Linked DNA regions of Homo sapiens: region 2 is linked to region 1. The links come from fine-mapping of genetic effects on gene expression. A gene starts in region 1. The other region holds a variant in brackets. All regions are shown on one strand. Distances are between the middles of the regions.

The links.
Region 2: its variant is fine-mapped to the expression of CCDC28A in whole blood (TOPMed, PIP above 0.99).

What each region holds. Positions count from the first base shown.
Region 1 is chr6:138,768,316-138,777,775 of GRCh38, reverse strand. CCDC28A (coiled-coil domain containing 28A) reads right to left here and starts at 4,007. Exons shown (of 6, transcript NM_015439.3): 1 at 3,874-4,007; 2 at 1,498-1,697. The coding sequence starts at 1,655. It overlaps CCDC28A-AS1 (CCDC28A antisense RNA 1), which reads left to right and starts at 4,073. Exons shown (of 3, transcript NR_161205.1): 1 at 4,073-4,261. RefSeq lists enhancers at 3,695-3,754, 4,115-4,174, 4,195-4,244, 3,608-4,281, 4,282-4,956 and 1 more.
Region 2 is chr6:138,684,461-138,693,920 of GRCh38, reverse strand. It overlaps LOC124900217 (collagen alpha-1(III) chain), which reads right to left and starts at 1,195. Exons shown (of 2, transcript XM_047419637.1): 1 at 1-1,195. The coding sequence starts at 1,158. The coding sequence ends at 229. It overlaps NHSL1-AS1 (NHSL1 antisense RNA 1), which reads right to left and starts at 2,253. Exons shown (of 4, transcript NR_033896.1): 1 at 1,953-2,253. It also overlaps a transcript of NHSL1 not described here. RefSeq lists silencers at 407-546, 587-646, 1,127-1,476, 1,487-1,536 and an enhancer at 1,659-2,858. The variant A/G (reference allele first, on the strand shown) is at 5,519.

The sequences.
Region 1 (9,460 bases):
CATTTAATAACCCTCTCAGAAAACAAACACAAAAGATAAAACAAAAACCTGTTTATTCCTGCTTCAATGTTATGTCACACTCTCACTTTATGTTAACATAATTCAACAATAAAGCAAGCACACAGTGAAATAATACTATGTGCAAAGCCCCACTGTAAGTTCTGTCAGGCACACAATGATGATCCAGAGAGTCCTGGCCCTCAGAAGCCTACATCTACAAGAGGGTATGGAAATAAAACCACCAATAAAAATGACAATGATACAAATAAACTGCTTTTAAAAATATAGAGAAAGGAGTGATTACTTTTAAAATCTCTTCGTTTTCTTTTTCCACCAACTGTAAACTTATTCAAAATCTGACCCTAATTAAACTCTTCCATGACAAAAACCCCATTCTGATAATTTATTCGAAGGAAATCCTCAAAACTGCTGTTTATCATTTGGTACTCATTGGAATACTTCTTCCAAATCTTCTCTTGTCTTTGGTTATGTCCCTTCTGTTTCGACAAAGAGAGATCATCATCAAGGCAGTAATCTCATCTTTTATTAGGTGTAAACCCAGCGGCTACAGAATGCAACAGGCATTTCCTTAGCTAACTTGCCAGGGTGAGATTGGATGTGAGAGTAAATTTATTTAATAATTAGAAAGAAGATTGACATTATACAACACTTTTTTTCCTCTAAAGCTATAATCTTCCCTTCCAAATATCTAATACTATAAAATACTCACATATATGTAACAGTAACATATAACATAGTTAAACTTGTCACTTCTGTTTCCTTTAAATATCCTGAATGCAAATGATGTTCACCAAATATTAATAATGATTATTTCTAGGTGGTAGAATTTTTGCATTTTGAATTTCTTCTTTGAATTTTTCCTGTGTTTGAATATTTATAAAAAACACAGTTTATACAAAAACAATGACACCATTATTTTTTAGAAATAAAAACTGCAAGCTGGGTGTGGTGTCACACCACACAGTCACAGCCCCTCAGAAGACTGAGGCAGGAGGATCCCTTGAGCCCAGAGGTTCAAGGCCGGCCTGGGCAACACAGTGAGACCCCATATTTAAAAATATATATATATATGTGTGTGTGTAAAATAAAATAAATTAAGAAAACTACCAAGGCACAAACACTCAGCTTAGAGAAAAAAGAGAGAAAGAAAGAAAGAGAACAAAAAACCCTGCTGACTTTCTTTCACTTTTTCACTTTTCCCATTTCTGACTAGCTCATCAACACAGTCAAAAAGTTTTCTTGTTTTGTATATTTTAATATAAGACAAAGTAAGGGCCTTCAAACCAATAATTCATTTTGCATTTTCTAATATCTATACACCGTAACTTTCATAAATTTTTCTTCTAAATCACGCATAATGGGTGCCTCAACTGTTTTAAAAGTCAAGCCAAGACTAAAAAAGTGTTTAAGAAGAAGTTGAGTCAGGATTTACTTTAATGGCATTTTACTGTGAACATGTAAAATAAAAGAATTCACCTTTTTAACTTTGGTCGCTGTGAAGTTGACTGTGATGCAGGATTTGAAAACCCTGTGCTTTTACTCACTGGAATGGCATTTTTTTTGGCATTGACAACCTGAGTACAGTGGGCACTAAAAGACTTAGGACTCCTCCTCTTCACTTTCCGCTCTTCCATTGTTTTAAGTTCCTTATTGCACCACGGCCAGCTTCTTAAGACCTAAATAAGGAATACAGCAATTATATATGTATGCTATAATATGCAAACATGAAAGAAATTCAAAGACCCATTTCACAGGGTCAAAAGAGGATCAAGAATTCCAGAGGGCATAAGAGAAAGTTAGAAAATGGGTCTCTTAAGTTTAATGTACTCTACTATGTACCCATAAGCCCCTAGCAAAATTGTCTGGTAGACAGTTTTTGTTTTGTTTTGTTTTACCATTTTCTTTATTTCTTCATCCTACAAATATTTACTGATTCTCTTCCACAAGCCAGACACTATTGTGGGTACTGGAGAGACGGCACTGAACAAGGTGTTTGACCTCAAGAAGCCTACATTTTACAAGGGGAACAACATATAAACAATAAACAAATGATCCACATAATATTCCCAGCCTGATTCAAGCTTCAGGTGGCCTTTAGGTCTTTCTTCCAAAATGTATGCTTAAGAAGAACCAAGTAGATTCAAACAGATGTATAATTGTCATAGGGATTTTACTAGCATTTTAAAAATCAACTAGAAGCCTTACTTCAACTACTAAACAGAAACTCAGTTTCTAGCTAGGGCTAATAATGATTCTAGCTTGGTGATAAGTGAAGTTCTAGAAAATCAAACTTGTTCGTTGCCTATTTTGAATATACTTTCTCTAACCATTTCCAAACAAACGTGAATTTTATGATATATATTTAGTTTTGCCCATATCAAAAAAGTTAACAATGTGAAGTTACAGATGGCCCTTCCATGCGGAATACGTGTAAGGCCTCCTAGTTATCCCTACACAATCCCCTTACTTTATCTATTAATCCGCTCTATTTTCTAACATCCATCTATTTAAAAAATACCCTTCCGGCCGGGCTCACGCCTGTAATCCCAGCACTTTGGAAGGCCAAGGCGGGCGGATCACGAGGTCAGGAGATCGAGACCATCCTGGCTAACACGGTGAAACCCCGTCTCTACTAAAAATACAAAAAATTAGCCGGGAGTGGTGGCGGGCGCCTGTAGTCCCAGCTACTCAGGAGGCTGAGGCAGGACAATGGCATGAACCCGGGAGGCGGAGCTTGCCCTGAGCCGAGATGGTGCCACTGCGACAGAGCGAGACTCCGTCTCAAAAACAAAACAAAACAAAACAAAACAAAACAAAAAAACCCCTTCCATACTTTATTTGTGCATAGTGTTAAATTTTTCTTAACTTCATTATTTCATATATCATAAGATGAATTTATATGGCTATCTCTACCTCATCAGGTTGTAAATTGCCTTCTAGAAACATTAGGCCGTTTTTGGCATGCTGTGTTTAATTTAGGCATGCCATGACCATTCAAAAAGATTCAAACCCATTGCTGTCGCTTAAAATAATTATTTGATGAATTCAATAAATTTTTCTTTTTCCTTTTGCCTGGACTTAGTGCCACTGGCACTGGAATTTAAACCACTGAGCTTAAATTGGCTGACGCTAGACAATTACAACTGGAGCTACAATACTGCCAAAGAAGAGGCTTTCTGGGAAAGGCTCCAATGCCCAGTCTCTAATCCCAGATACCACTGGGTGTCAATCCACTTAAACCTTGGCTAACAATTTTTCTTTTAAGAAGCATTTTTTGTAACAGAACAATAATTCTGGTGTTGTTTCAACATGCAACACAAATTAAATGAGAGTTTGAAAGATGACTGAATAGAGACGATTAGTTCTCTGAAGAGGCAAGGATCTGTAAAAATGTATGATACGCATAAACACGCTGGCCTGAAATTTAACGATGCTAATACACACTTGGTGGTACAAGAAAAAAAAATCTAGGAAGTAAAGCAATGCAAATAAACCAGTGGTGGTCTAAACCACAATATTCTGCGGAGCCAGCACTCGCGATTTCCTCGTTTTTGGAAAATTACATCTGTCACAAGAGCACTGAAACCCTTCCTGTATATCAAACAGCAAAGAATGTTTTAGAGAAGGCATAATAAGTAAACTGCTCATAGTTACTTATTCACACAGTGGTTTTAAGTGCCAGGTCTTGCCTCCAAGCAGTACCACTGGGCATCCCTCTTGACATCACCTCATTCCCCTTCCCCAATCTACCGAAGCGATGACCCTTCACCGCCCAGTACCCAGCAGTGACCAGAGTGGTGGGAAGGGCCTAAAGGGGCAGGTTGCGGAGGTTCCTTTGCTTCCACTACATACCTGAAGAAGAAGGGTATTGGGGCCCCCTTCCGCAACCCGCAAAGACCCGACAGCCTCAGAAGCCACCGCCGCAGCCACAAGCAGAGCCCCGGTCACATCCCGGGACCCGCTCCTCCGCAGCTCCGTTTGTTTACGGAAGTGACGTAAGAGGTACAGCCTCCATGCCCCAAGCGGAAGCCCCGCCTTTTCCTGCTCCCCCAGTGTCGCTCTTGGCTCCGCCCTCGGCATTTCATTGCTTCCCCTGTCCTTCCTTTAGCTGTAACTCCGGCGGGCGTGTTGGGTGTGTCGTTTTAGGCTCTGTGACCCAGGAGCAAGACGCAATAAGCGGGTGCAGTGGAGGTAGAAACGGGAAATGCAGTACCCTTTCCGGAAGCTACTCCGCCCCTCGGTGAGTGTTAGATTCCCCCCCCGAACTACAATTCCCAGAATGCTGTTCGAGCATGCCCGAAGGCGGAACCAGAGTGTCGCCATGCAACTGTTCCTTGGTTGTTTCCGATTGGTTGCCCGGACTTCTCGCGGCTAAACTAATTTTGGCTCCAAGGCGGCGTGAAGAGTGTGATTCTGTTCAGCGACCGTGATTCTGTTCAGCGACCATGATGTTGAGCCCCTAATTGAGAGTCTGTTACCACTATTAATAGCTACTCTGTTCGGGCCCTACACATAACGGTGTATCTAAACCTCTCTACAATTTTATGGGTAGGTGTTATACTCTCTGTTTTACAAATGGGGAATTTGAGGCTCAGAAAGGCTAATTGATGCAGGTGTCTCTCTGTCGTCAAAGATAGTTCTACTTCCACTATACTTAAAGCCTCTGGAGAAGGAATTGCAGGCTGAGAGAAAGAGATCTATCTTAAATGAGGGAAGAAATGCACGTTTCATTGCCTGGTCTGGGTAGCCTTCCCGGTGTTGGAGTGGGAGGTGGGAAGGTTTTAGATTCACAGGTCCTTAGATTGAAGGGACTCTGGAGGAACACCACATAGCACCCCCCGCATTAGCTAATGGGGAAACCATATCTAGAGATTGTATCCATGCCAGAAAAGGCAGAGCAAAGACAACCCCAGTCTCTTGGCTTCTAGGATAGGATGTTCTTCCGCCACCCGCCATTTAAAAAAAAAAAACAAAACTATTGAAATGTTAAAAAAAAAAAGCACAGAATAAACAACGCACCCACTATCCAGAACGAACAGATTTATGAATGAAAGAAATGGAGCATTACAGATAAAGAAGGTGTTCCCTATTCTCAGTCCCATTCTACTACCACCCTCAGAGAGGCAACCAGGATCATGAATTTGATATGTATCTTGCCAATCTAGGTTTCTATATTTAAACTATTACTATGTATTATAAACAATATGTAGAATGGTTTGGGGCATTTGAAGTTTTACATGAATGCTATTATATTTTGTGTATTGATCTGCAACTTGATTTTTTCACCAAATTCTGTGTTTTTGAGAGCTATCCACATTGATAAATATAGCTAGACTTTATCAAATAGATTTGTCACAAATTATTTGGGAATTCCCATAGTGATGGATGTTTAGGTTGTTTCCCATTTTTCACCATTACAAACACTACTGTACAGTCTGCTCAATATCTTTTCCCAGTTTCTCCTTTTAATTAATGTCGAATTGTCTTATTTGTATGAACAGAGCTTGCAACTGGTGATTCACATGCTACTTTTTTTTTTTTCAAATTGGTTGCTAACAGCTAAAATTGAAAGAATAAAAACAATGTGGCATCCCATGAATTAACGGGAAGATCTGACTACGTTAGATGTGCATTGTAGCCTGGCAACAATGGTTCAAGCTGGAAAGCATCTGCCTCCTTTACCTCAGTTCAAGTAATATCTAGTTTTTCTTTGTCTTTAGTACCCATCTGAGCCCTGTAGCATTTGTGTTTACAACCTCCAACATGATGTAGGGACACAGGAAAGTACCCTTCTAAATGGACATGTTTCAGGTATTCAGAAATAGGTATTCAGGTTTTGAATACCTATTTTAAGTCCCTATTTTAGCCACACCCTGTGATAGGAGGTCAGGATGCATCTATCAACAAAAGGTACAAGAGCTTTATAGTCAGAGATCTTATATTCCCGATATAAGAGACTGACAATAAATTAGTATGCAAATAAAATAGTTTCATTTAGTCAGATGAGAGTCCTGAAATAACAGCTTAAGGTCAAAAGTAGTTTGTACTGAAGGAGAAGTATCAGGGAAGGCCTTCCCGAAAATGCAGCTTTGAGGTAGAGATATGAATAAAGTGCATGAGCCAGCCATGGAATGATCTGAGGAAAATGAGTCCTTGAGTGCCAGGCACGGTGGCTTTTGCCTGTAATCCAGCACTTTGGGAGGCTGAGGCAGACAAATAGCTTGAACCTAAGAGCTGGAGACCAGCCTAGGCAACATAGCAAAACCCTGTCTTTACAAGAAATACAAAAATTAGCTGGGCATGGTGATGCAGGCCTGTAGTCCCAGCTGCTTGAGTGGCTGAAGTGGGAGGATCACCTGAACCCAGGAGGTCAAGGCTGCAGTTAGCCATGATCATGTCACTGTGCTCCAGCCTGGGTTACAAAATGAGACCCTGTCTCAAAAAAATAAAAAAAAAATAAGAAGGAGAAGGAGAAGAAAAGAAGCATTCTTGAATAGAACATACGGCTAAAATGCAGGCCATTAGGCAAAATGAACTTTAACATGTTTGAGGAAGCAGAGGGTTAGTGAGGTGAATTGTACTGGGCTAGGGACAGAGTGACGCAAGATAGAGTTGTTGTAGAGGTACAGTTTCAAGTGTGATTTCTTTAATCTAAAATCTAGAGTTCCTCCCTGAGAGAAATGATCTTTCAGATTTTCTAGATTTTCCTTTAATTCCTTTAAACTGTAAGCATCCATTCTTTGGATTAACTGTTAAATGCAGACCTTGTATAAATTACTCCAATCATATACTTTCTTCCTGAGGATTATATTTAGAGGATGGGAGCTTTGATTAACAAGACCCTTCCCCTGCCTCCCAGTACTCATACATTGTATAGCATAGGTAGGTAAGGAGGAATACTGCTGGCGAATTTCCTAGTAGTGGCAGTGGAGAGCCATTGAGAGAAAAATCTGCTGGGGGCCCAGAAATCTCTATTTAAAAAAAATTTGTCTTATGGAAAATTTCAAACATATACTGAGGAAGACAGAAGACTATAATGAATCCCTCATCCAGCCATTAACCCCTGGCCAATGATGTCGATTATAGCTGTTACCAGTGACGTTGACCCTGATCCTTTATGGAATGGAATTTTTGTTATGTTATTTTTTAGGGTGCTATGAGGATAAGAAAAGAAACAGGCATTTGAGAAGAAAATTATAACCGAATTTATACTTATAAATTTTTGATATCATAATCTCAGGTGATTCACATGGACACGCGTAAACACACCCACAAGTGCAGCTAGAAGTAAATCACCCAGAAACTGTCATTGTCCTTGTACATTGTATATACAATGCAATCATTTCATACCTTGGCCAGAAAACTGTGATTTCTGTCTTGCAAAGCTGTATGTAGTAGATAATGTGATAACCTGTAATATTGATCTGATAAATATGTATTCAGATGAAACCTGTAAAAAAAAAAAGCCCCTCTTCTGACATTTTTCAGTCTCTAGTATTATGTTGAAGTAAATCTCAGATATAATTTAATCCCTAATATTTTAATATAGATTGCTAAAAGATTAAAACTTTTAAAGACTTCACCACAATGCCTTTATGATTCCTAAGCAGCAATGAATGATTAATGTTATTAAATATTCAGTAAGTATTCAAGTTTCCATTCGAATCAGAAGTGTCATAACTTTTTTCACATTTTACTTGAGTCAGGAACCTCTCTTTCTGTAAGGTCCTCAGGTGATGAATGGGTTTGGAAGCCTCTCTTGTACAGCCTCATTAGTTGAGCTACAAACATGCATTGTCCTTTCCCTTCAGAAAGTTAGGGCGCTATGAAAGCAGGAGTCCCCAGCCTCCAGCTGTAGACTGGAACTAGTCCGTGGCCTGTTAGGAACTGGGCCACACAGCAGGAGGTGAGCAGCCAGTGAGGGAGCATTACCACCTGAGCTCCCACCTACTGTCAGATCAGCAGTGGCATGAGATTCTCATAGGAGCCTGAGCCCTAATGTGAACTGCGCATGCAAGGGATCTAGGTGGGCGGTGGTCCTTATGAGAATCTAACGAAAGCCTGATGATCTCAGGTGGAACAGTTTCAGTTTCATCCCCAACCCCCACCCCGCCCCATCCATGGAAAGATTGTTTTCCACTAAACTGGTCCCTGGTGCCAAAAAGATTGGGGACTGTTGCTCTAAAGGGGAAGGCAGGTATCTCAAAGCAAATGGATACTCTCAGTGCCTGAAGCACAGTCATTCCTGTATTGTCCTTTGTGGTTCTTATAGGGAAGAGATGTTTTTTGTTTGTTTCTTGTTTTTGTTTGTTTTTACCCAGAAGCCTATCCATCATTTTCTAAGTGTGCTTCCACTTCCATTTCCCCTGATGCCGGAATGCCTTGGCCAAGATAGTAACTGCTTAATGCTTCTTTGCGTGTCTGGCTCAGGAAACAGCTAAGAAAAAAGATAAGAAGTCATAAAGCAGAAATGAGCTCGGCATGTTCACGGAACTGAAAGAATGCCAGCGTAGTGGTCTGGAGTGCAGGGGGACAAGAAGTAGTATGAGATGAAGTCCCCAAGGTTGCCAGAGGGTCAGGTCAGGAAGGGTTTTTTAAACCAATATAAGAAATCTGTATTTTTTCCCCTAAGCACAGCAATAGGCATTGGAGAGTTTTAAGGCATGACATGGTCTAAGTTACATTTTTAAAAGATTATTCTATAGAAGAATGGAAACAGGAAGGCCAGTTAAGAGAAATGGGCCATAGTGAGGTGTTATATAGGCTTGCTTTACAGCTCAGACCTGAAAAAATAAGTTATTTCAAAAGCCATACTGTACTATGACTACTATTATAAAACTTGGTAAGATTCCTTGAGACACCCTCTAAAAAGGGTGCCAAGAGACTGGATCTGAACTATCCAGCACTGAAGGCCTTCAGAGCTGTGCTATTGTAGATGAGCAAGCCTTTTGGGAACTGTTAATAGTGAAAGGAAGAACCACGTGGTGAAGAGCTGGGAGCCACCATTTATGGAGGAGCATGGTATGGTGTCATGGAAAGTGCACCAGACCGGGAGTTGGGGGAAACCCCATCTCTTGTCTACTCCAGGCTGTACACTTTTTTTTTTTTGAGACAGAGTCTCACTCTGTCACCAGGCTGGAGTGCAGTGGCAGAATCTTGGCTCACTGCAACCTCCGCCTCCCAAGTTCAAGCGATTCTCGTGCCTCAGCCTTCTGAATATCTGGGATTACAGGCAGGTGCCACCACACCCAGCTAATTTTTGTATTTTTAGTAAAGACGGGATTTTACCATGTTGGCCAGGAAGGTCTCCATCTCCTGACCTCGTGATCCCCCCGCCTCAGCCTCCCAAAGTGCTGGGATTACAGGCATGAGCCACTGTGCCCAGCCTCTAGGCTGTACATCTTAAGTATTAGTGAGAGGCCCAAAAATGAACACAGAG
Region 2 (9,460 bases), 84 kb after region 1:
TCAGGGTTCTAGGTTCTAGTCCTCCACCCCTAACTAACATGCTTGGTGGAAGAAACTCAGATTAGTCACATTTCAGCTTGGACCTTTCCAGCTGTAGTAGCAGGCAGCCACAGGGGGAGTCACCTTGCTGAAAAAAACTCACTGGACGCCCCCTGAAAAGAGGTCTTGAGTTGTTCCGAGTCGGACGCTGACTCCTAGTCGGCTACAGAACCCTTGGCCACCGGACATTTAAAGACGTTCTATTTGAGGTCCACCCGGGCGGCCCAGAAGTGTTGGCCACCTTCCAGAAGGGAAGTAGGAGAGAGCAGGGGGACCCCGAGGGGCCCGGGGCGTTCCCCGCGGGGCGGGGCGCTCCTGACTGCGGAGCGCCGTGGGCAGGGGCGCAGGTGAGCAGAGCGAGCGGAGCTGGCCGCGGCCGTCCTGGCGCCTCCGCCCTCCCGGCGCCCGCACTGCGCTGCACCCCGGCCCGGGGGGCGGGCGAGGGCTCTGCCCCACCGCCCGGGGGCTGCCAAGGGGAGTTGGGGCGGCGACGTGGGCGTCCCGGGACTGTGCGCCCGCACCCGCCCCGACAGGGTGCGCTGAGGCGCCGGGGCCGCCACTGGCTGCGGGCGCTGGGCGCGGCAGCCGCGGGAGCCGCAGGTGGTTCCCGGGCCGGCCCTTTTCTCCTCCCCCTTTCCTTTCTTTCGCCTCCCCTCCCTCTCGCCCGGTGTCGGCGGCACTTCCCTCGCTTCCTCCTCCCTCTCCAATCCGGAGGGAGGGAAGGAGCAGCCGGCGCTTTCCTGCCCGCCTGCAAACTTCAGCGGGACTCGCGGCTCCCCTCGCCGCCGCGGCCGCCGCCGCCCAGAGCTGCCCCTGGAACTTCCTCTCGCCGCGCGGCCCGCGAAGCCCTGCGGGTGGAGGAACGCCGCCGGGCGCCAGGCAGCCACGGCTCGGACCCCATTCCTGCCCCGCGCCGCCCGGGTGCCCGCTCGCCCGCGCGCCCGTCCGTCCGTCCGTCCTTCCTGCCCGCCCGGCCTCTCCCCTGCGGGCAGGGGCCGCCAGGCTTCCCTCGGCGCCCCGCCGCTGCCCGGGACTTCCTTTGTGTTGGATGCAGGCTGGCGCCCCGCGCCGACGGGAGGCAGACTGAGGGATCCCGCGCCGCCGGCCCGCCCCCGCCATGCCCTTCCACCAGAGGACCCTGGAGCCCGCGCGGCTGCGCCGGCCCGAGGCGGCGGGGGCCGGGGCTGCGGGCGCGCCACTCTTCCGCTCGCTGGAGCAGGTCAGCTCGCATGCCCTGGGCTGCCTGCTGGCGCAGCTGGCCGACCTGTCGCGCTGCGCCGGGGACATCTTCGGCGAGCTCGAGGGCCAGGCGGCCGCGCTGGGCCACCGCACCGCCGCGCTGCACCGCCGCCTCGACGCCCTGCAAGCCGCCGCTGCGCGCCTGGACCACCGCCGAGTGAAAATCCGTGAGTGGCCGGCGGGCCGGGGGAGGGGAACCGGCGGGGGAGGCACCCGGAGAGCTGCTCCCGCCCGCCCCCTGGCGGCCCTGGGTCGGCGCGGGGGCCGCGGAGCCCCGCGATGTCGGGGTCTCCAGTGGGGACTGCCGGACCCCAGCGGGAGGCTGGGCAGGTGGCAGGGGCGCAGAGCGCTCTGTGACTTTCGGACTCCTGGAGGGTCTTGGCTACCTCGAGAGAGTGGGCGCGGAGGGTGGGAATTGGACAGTCCCCTTGTCTGCTCCTTCTGTCTGTCTGTGTCTGTCTGTTTGGGAGACCCCGGGGCGCTGTAGACAGAGGAGAGCCAAGTTCGTGGGAAAACTGTCACAGGCAGGTAGCCTGTTGGAAAAGCCAGGGGAGAATATAAATTTGGGCATATAGTAGTTACAGTTTTGGAGACTTCAGGACGATCCGTTTGTAAAACCCTGGGGATCTCGGCGAGCGTTGGGGCTGCTTGCCACCTCTCTTCCCGCCGCCTACCTGTGTTCTTACCGACAAGCAAAACTATGCAGACTTTAAGGGTTTTCCCATTTGGCGCAGAATTTTCTTTCTTCTCCCAGACTGACCCACCAGCTCTTTGTGATTCAGAAGACGTTGACCTTGAGTTCAGGCTCTGAATCCCATTCATCTTTGTCCGGCTTCCTCCAACCCTGAAAGTCAAGTCTATGTCCTGATATAGTGATCTCTCCGGTGATCCATTTCATTTCAGCAGCTTAACTGGCTCCGGTGAATGAAGCAACTGGAATTTCCTGCTGGCCCAAAGCAGAGAAACTTTCAGTGTGATGTCTCTGTGGTTTCTCCCTTTTAAGTACGTGAACTTGGTCATAATCCTAAGTGTAAAGAATAAATTGGAGATGGTTGATGGATTGCTGGGTGGGAGGGGAGATGTTGATGTAACACACGCCTAGATTTCAGCAGCTCTGGATGAAATAGTTTTTTCTCCTAGAATCACTTCATATGCAATCTCGAATAGCTCGTTTTCCAGCTAGCTAGAAAAACTTAGCTATATTTTAACTACCTTACAGCCTAAGAGTTCAAAATTTTCAATTATTTAATTTCAGTGAGATTGCTTGCTATAATACATCTTTCTCCAAGTTGTATAATTAATTCGTGGCAGTTTTACATTTTTGCGTTCATCTCTTTGATTGTGCCGTCAACACATTCATATGAATTGTGGACAGTTCCCAACCTGGGAGAGCGTCCCCCTCCAAGAAAAAAAAATCAGTGGGGAGGAATCAAAGTGATCTCATAAGGTTGTTGACATAATCAGAATATATCTACTTAATGTGAGTGATGACTTCATGCATATGGTAGGATACACTGTCCTAGTAGGATGTCATGGTCTATGCGGCAATCACGAGTTGCTTCTATGCGTTTTCTGTCTAGGGTGTAGGTACGTGGGAGAACCAGAATTTTACCCTTGACAAAGAATGTGATGAGGGAGATCTGATTGATAGGTGAACTGATCTATTGTGGGAATTAAAAAACAAGAGGAAACTCCCTGAAGGTCAAGAACTCCTTCCTTTACTAGTTTGGTTTTACATTTAAATGTATCACTTTTCTCTGTTCTTTAGTACATATGCCCCAATAGGCTACTGTCCATAGCCAGAAATCCCCCAAATTCTCCATATTAACTAAGGTTGTTCTAATTACAGTAACTGAAATAACTCTTTTCAAAACTTTTCACAAGTTTGTTTGAATCTTAAGTGGTTGTGATTTCATACCTGTCTTCCAGGCTGGAGTGCTGTGGTGCAATCTCAGCTCACTGCACCCTCCGCCTCCTGGGTTCAAGCAATCCTCCTGCCTCAGCCTCTAGAGTACCTGGGATTACAGGCGCCCGCCACCACGCCCGGCTAATTTTTGTATTTTTAGTAGAGACAGGGTTTCGCCATGTTTGTCAGGCTGGTCTTTAACTCCCAACCTCAGGCGATCCACCTGCCTCGACCTCCCAAAGTGCTGGGATTACAGGTGTGAGCTACCACACGTGGCCCCATTTTTTTTTTTTTAATAATCATGCAAGAAGGCTTTTTATTGAATATAATTATGCCTGAGTATAAATGTACATGTAGAGAAGAAAGCTGACTATCAAGACATTAATTTTTGTGGTTTCTTTCACCTTCACACACTTTGCTTTTTTATGTGCTTAAAAGCAGTGAAATGCCTATGCATTACCATCTGTTAGGATTCTTTTAAAACAATGCCTCAAACCTTGTTTCTGTGTAAAAACTACAGTTTGAAGTTGTTCTGCCATTTTAGGCAGGTCTTCAGAATATCATACTCCATTAGTATGGATGGCTAGACTTTTAGACTTGGAATTGACCGTAAAGGCCATCCATTTCGTGAATTCTTACCCAGAGAGGAAATCCAGTCCAACAGCATTGCAGTTAATTCACCCCAGGTTAGGCTGTGGGTAATGACACATCCGGGCCTGAAGCCCAAACCTTCTGATTGTCTCGCCTGTCGTCCCACTGCCTGTGTTCCTTCCCTTTAGAAGAGTGTGGAGCCAGGCACAGTGGCTCATGCCTGTAATCCCAGCACTTTGGGAGACCAAGGTGGGCGGATCATTTGAGGCTAGGAGTTCAAGATCAGCCTGGCCAACATGGCGAAACCCCGTCTCTACCAAAAATACAAAAATTAGCGAGACTGTCTCAAAAAAAAAAAAGGTGTGGAAATGGGGAGCAAAGTTTAGATATGTTCCTTAAACAGTCCTAAGGATAACTGTGACCGTTAATTCCACCCTTCTTGTCAGATAAACCATTTAATGAGTCTCCCCAGGAGCAATTAACAGAATCCAGCAGTTTACCAAAAGCCTCTAGCAGTTGGGGACAGCATATTTCAGTGACCAATAATAGCTTTCTACCATAAGAAAGGATGTGAGAATGTCAGTGGAACAATTTAAAAAAATGTATAAACACTCTTTGCAATACAGAGACAGTATTTTAGTCCTGTGGGCTGGCCCTGCTGGCCTCAATGATCCTGAGAGGTATTTCATCAAGTTTGCCATTCCTCAAAATCTCATGGGTAGAAAGTTATCCAAAATAATTTTTTGTCATGCCTTGGGGAGAATGCATGTTATTATTCTGTTCATTGAAGACTCCTACTTTCTTTCCCTGACACCCCCAGGTTGAGGGGCTGTTCCCATGGCATTGGTTCACCTCGATCACCACATTTACCAAGGGGACTTCTGCACCCCTCTGCCAGACAGCAGGACCTTTGAGGTCCAGGATGGCCGAGTCTTTGTTTTTCTAGAGCTTAGAACAATGCCTGGATGTGATAGCTCAATAGATGTTTGAATTGAATTAATACTTAGTGACTTAGTGCTTACTGTCAGGAAGAATAACTATAAAAACCTTAGGGAGGAAGGAGGATGGATCTTTTGAGGCAGGTGGATCAGTTGAGGCCAGGAGCTCAAGACTAGCCTGGCCAATATGTTGAAACCCCGTCCCTACTAAAAATACAGTACTAAATACAATACTAAGTACAAGTACAAAAATACAATACTAAAAATACAATACTGCTACCAATGTAAGTGATCGAGACAATTACTTTACAAAAATAAAAATGTAAACTTTCTGCCTTTAATGTTTAGTGCTTAACCACCAATCTCTGCTCCTGTCTGTAAAAGTCAGACTTCATTAATTTTGCTGACACAGTAAGTTCTCATGGAAAATAGTGACAACAGCCAGCAATGTGAATAGTTACATCTTGGCTCTGTAAATATCAAAACAGACTTTGCTAAGCAGAAATCAATAGACACTCGATCAAATAGTCTGTTTCTATTTTTTTATTTTTATTTTAATTTTTTTGAGATGGAGCCTTACTCTGTCGCCCAGGATGGAGTGCAGTGGCGTGATCTCAGCTCACTGCAACCTCTGCCTCCCGGGTTCAAGCAATTCCCTGCCTCATCCTCCTGAGTAGCTGGGATTACAGATGCCCACCACCATGCCTGGCTAATTTTTGTATTTTTAGTAGAGATGGGGTTTCACCATCTTGACCAGGCTGGTCTTGAACTCCTGACCTCGTGATCCACCCGCCTCGGCCTCCCA[A/G]AGTGCTGAGATTACAGGCGTGAGCCACTGTGCCTGGCCCCTGTTTTTATTTTTAAGCCCTGTGTGATTGGGTTTTCTTTCTCTTTAAAAATAGTTTTGTTGAAATAAAATTTACACACCATACAATTCACCCACTTAAAGCATACTGTTTGGCCGGGTGGAGTGGCTCACACCTGTAATTACAGTACTTTGGGAGGCCAAGGTGGGCCGATCACTTGAGGCCAGGAGTTCGAGACCAGCCTGGCCAACATGGCGAAACTCTGTCTCTACTAAAAATACAAAAATTAGCTGGGCATAGGGGCACATGCCTGTAATCTCAGCTACTTGGGAGGCTGAGGCATGAGAATGACTTGAACCCAGGAGGTGGATATTGTAGTGACCCGAGATGGCGCCACTGCACCCCAGCCTGGGAGATAGAGCAAGACTCTGTGTCCCCAAAAAAAAAAAGTGTACAATTTAGGGGTTTTTAGTGTATTCACAGAGTTGTGCAACCATTACCACAATTTTAGAACATTTTTATCACCCCAAAAGAAACCCCATACTCATAACTAGTTATTCCCCATTTCCTGTCAACCCTCCCATTCCTAGGCAACCACTGATCTACTTTCTGCCTCTATAGATTTGACTTTTCTGGACATTTCATACAGATGGAATCATGTGCCTGGCTTTTTTTACTTAGCACAGTGAACTTTTCGAAGTTCATAATTTGTTTCTTTTTATAATTAAGACTTTTATGATTGAAAAAGTATCATTCATATTTATTACTTGATGAAAAACCTTGTGAGATAGGAGGGAAGGCCAGGTTATATTATACACACTTATTACTTTTTAATTGATACATAATAATTGTACATATTTAACATTGTACATTTGCAAATACAGTCTTTGCATAAACAGGACTGAGAATTTGGCAGACACAGTAGGCTCATAGTTCTGAGGAGTATTTTAGGTGTTGAGATGCATTCTCATACCTCACAACAGACTGTCCCCTCACCTAACCAGAGGGTTGGCTGGTCCTGATGTCAGAATATCTTTGCTTCTTCCTCAGAACGCAAGGCACTTGTCAGAGTTCTAAAGACAGAGTGTTCACTGCACTTCGTCTTCTTCTTCTTTTTTTTTTTTTAATTTAAAAAGAGATGAGGTTTCCATACGTTGTGCAGGCTGGTCTGGAACTCCTGGGCTCAAGCGATCCTCCCTCCTTGGCCTCCCAAAAGAGCTGGGATTACTGGTGTGAGCCACCGTGTCTGACTGACTGCATAAGAATAGGTTGTATGGCTGTTTTTGTGTCTGACTACTCATAAATGTTTGGCGAAATTGGCATAAGATTTGCTTTCATTGACACATACCACATGCTAGAGAGGATGTTGGTGGCTGTGTGGCCCGCACCCCCCTCTAATCCCAGTCCCTCAATTTATTAAGAGAAACTGACAGTAGCTGAGTGGTCAGATTGCACCATCAGGTTAAGGAGGCGAGGTGATTCCTATACTTGACTAACTTTAAGAACTGCTTGGAACTTTCGTTAAAATTAGAGATTCCCAGACCCTTCCAAAGCCCTGTTGAGCCAGAGTCTCCAGTATGTTTAACAATGCCATGCTGTCCTTTGGCCAGGCAAATTGAGAAGCACTGCAATCGTCTAGAAAGCTCATTGGATTAGGAATTGGGAGACCTGAGCTTGGCTTCACCTCTGCCATTTTCTAACACAGATTTTGAGCAATTTATTCAACACCTCAAGGCCTTAGTTTTCATATCTGTAAACAGAGACCTTGACAAAAATAATCTCTACTGGCCTTTCCAATTTTGGCGTTTTGTGATTCTACTGAGGGATTTAAAAAGTTTTAATTTATTTTGACAAAATAAATAGGAAAATTAAAGTTGCATGTATTTATGGGAAACAACTATTTTATTTTATTATTATTTTTTTAGACAGGATCTGGCTGTTGCCCAGGCTGGAGTTCAATGGCTCAAATGATCCTCCCACCTCAGCCTCGCTAGTAGCCTGGACTATAGGCACATGCCACCATGCCAGGCTAATTTTTACATTTTTAATAGAGACAGGGTTTTACTGTGTTGCCCAGGCTGGTTTCAAACTCCTGGGCTCAAGCATCTGCCCGTTTTGGCCTCCCAAAATGCTAGGATTCCAGGTGTGAGCCACTGTGCCCCACCAACATGATGTTTATATATTGTGGCATGGGTTAATCAAGCTAATTAACATATAGGCATTATCTCACATACTCTTTTTTTTTTGGTAAGAACACTTACAAGTATGCAATACATGTTATTAGCTATGGTCACCATGTTGATTATAGATCTCTTGAACTTATTCCTCTTAACAGAAATTTTGTATCTTTTGACCAATATCTCTCCAATACCTTCTTCCTACAGCCCTTGGTAACCATCATTGTACTCTCTGCTTCTATGAGTTTCATTTTGACTATTTGATAATACTATATGAAGTGGATACCCTTATTTCTGTGTGACAGATGATATAGCTAAGGCACAAATAATTTGTTTGCCCATGTTGATAGCTGGTAAGCAATGGAGCTGGGCTTTGAATCCAGACAGGGTTCAAGTTCAGATGAATTTGTAAGTACAACTTTGATAAATAATCTCTTTGATTCTTTTGATGAGGGATTAAAAAAAAAACTTTGTGTCTGAAATAAACTCTTCATGACTCTATGGACTCTTTACATTAAAAAATTATTTATTTATTTATTTTCAGAAATTGATGTCTCACTGTGTTGCTTAGGCTCATCTCAAACTCTGGCCTCAAGCAATCCTCCCACCTTGGCCTCTCAAAGTACTGGGATTATAGGGGTAAGCCAGCACACCCAGCCTGTATGGGCTCTTTTAGCTAATATTTTATTCACATAGAGTGCGTGGATCGTCACATGTTGAGGGATTAGTCACTTGCCAAGCAGATCAGGCAGGTACTTGTTTCTAATTTGTGTATATTCTGCCCACAATACATTCATAGCTTCCTCCTCAGCTTTAAAAAGTGCAATGTCATTATGGAAAGAGAATTATGTTTAAATGCATTTGCCAAATATTCAGATTTCTAGGAGAGTTATTTTTTGAATTATGAGAGTATATCCTTTAAATCAAAACATCAGTCTCCTCATTGACTCTTGGGTATTGGGAAAATGATAACCTGCTTAAAAAGCTACCTACATTTAGGTTGAAATTATTTATCTAGCCGTAATCTAGTTTTCTGCTATATTAAAGAAAACCCTAATATTAACATTTTAGCTGTATATATTTTAAAATCGAGAATAGCAAATGAAAAAATTTAACAAAAGAGAAACATTTGAGTTTCTTAATATTTTGGGGAGAAAATTCAGAAACAAAACTAATGCAATATTTGCCTCTGGCAGTCATTTTATTATGTTTAAAAAACCAAGTTTTTCCAGCAGTGAAGGTGTAAAAAGAAAAAAAAAATCGTTATAAGTATAAAATAAAATGACTTGCACCTAACTAGGCCCCTAGTAACTTACTTAATTCTGTTTCTCCTCAAATTGGTTTCTATCCTGGAATGAATGACTTCTGCAGGAACTGAAGTTCAGATGCAGCAGGAGGGTACTGACCGCCATCTTGTTCCACATGCCGGTTTCATTTGTGGTCTGCACTTGTCACAGTGTGCACTTCAGCTGCACTTTGGGCAAAGGTAGAAGAGCTGGAGCTTCTGTGTTTGACTGAGGAACTCTCTGAGAAAAGGAGCTTACAGGCCCCCCATGTTTGTTTGTTTGTTTGTTTGTTTTTCTGAGACGGAGTCTCACTCTGTTGCCCAGGCTAGAATGCAGTGGCGCGATCTTGGCTCACTGCAACCTCTGCCTCCCGGGTTCAAGTGATTCTTCTGCCTCAGCCTTCTGAGTAGCTGGGATTACAGGCGCACGCCACCACGCCCAGCTAATTTTGTATTTTTAGTAGAGATGGGGTTTTGCCATG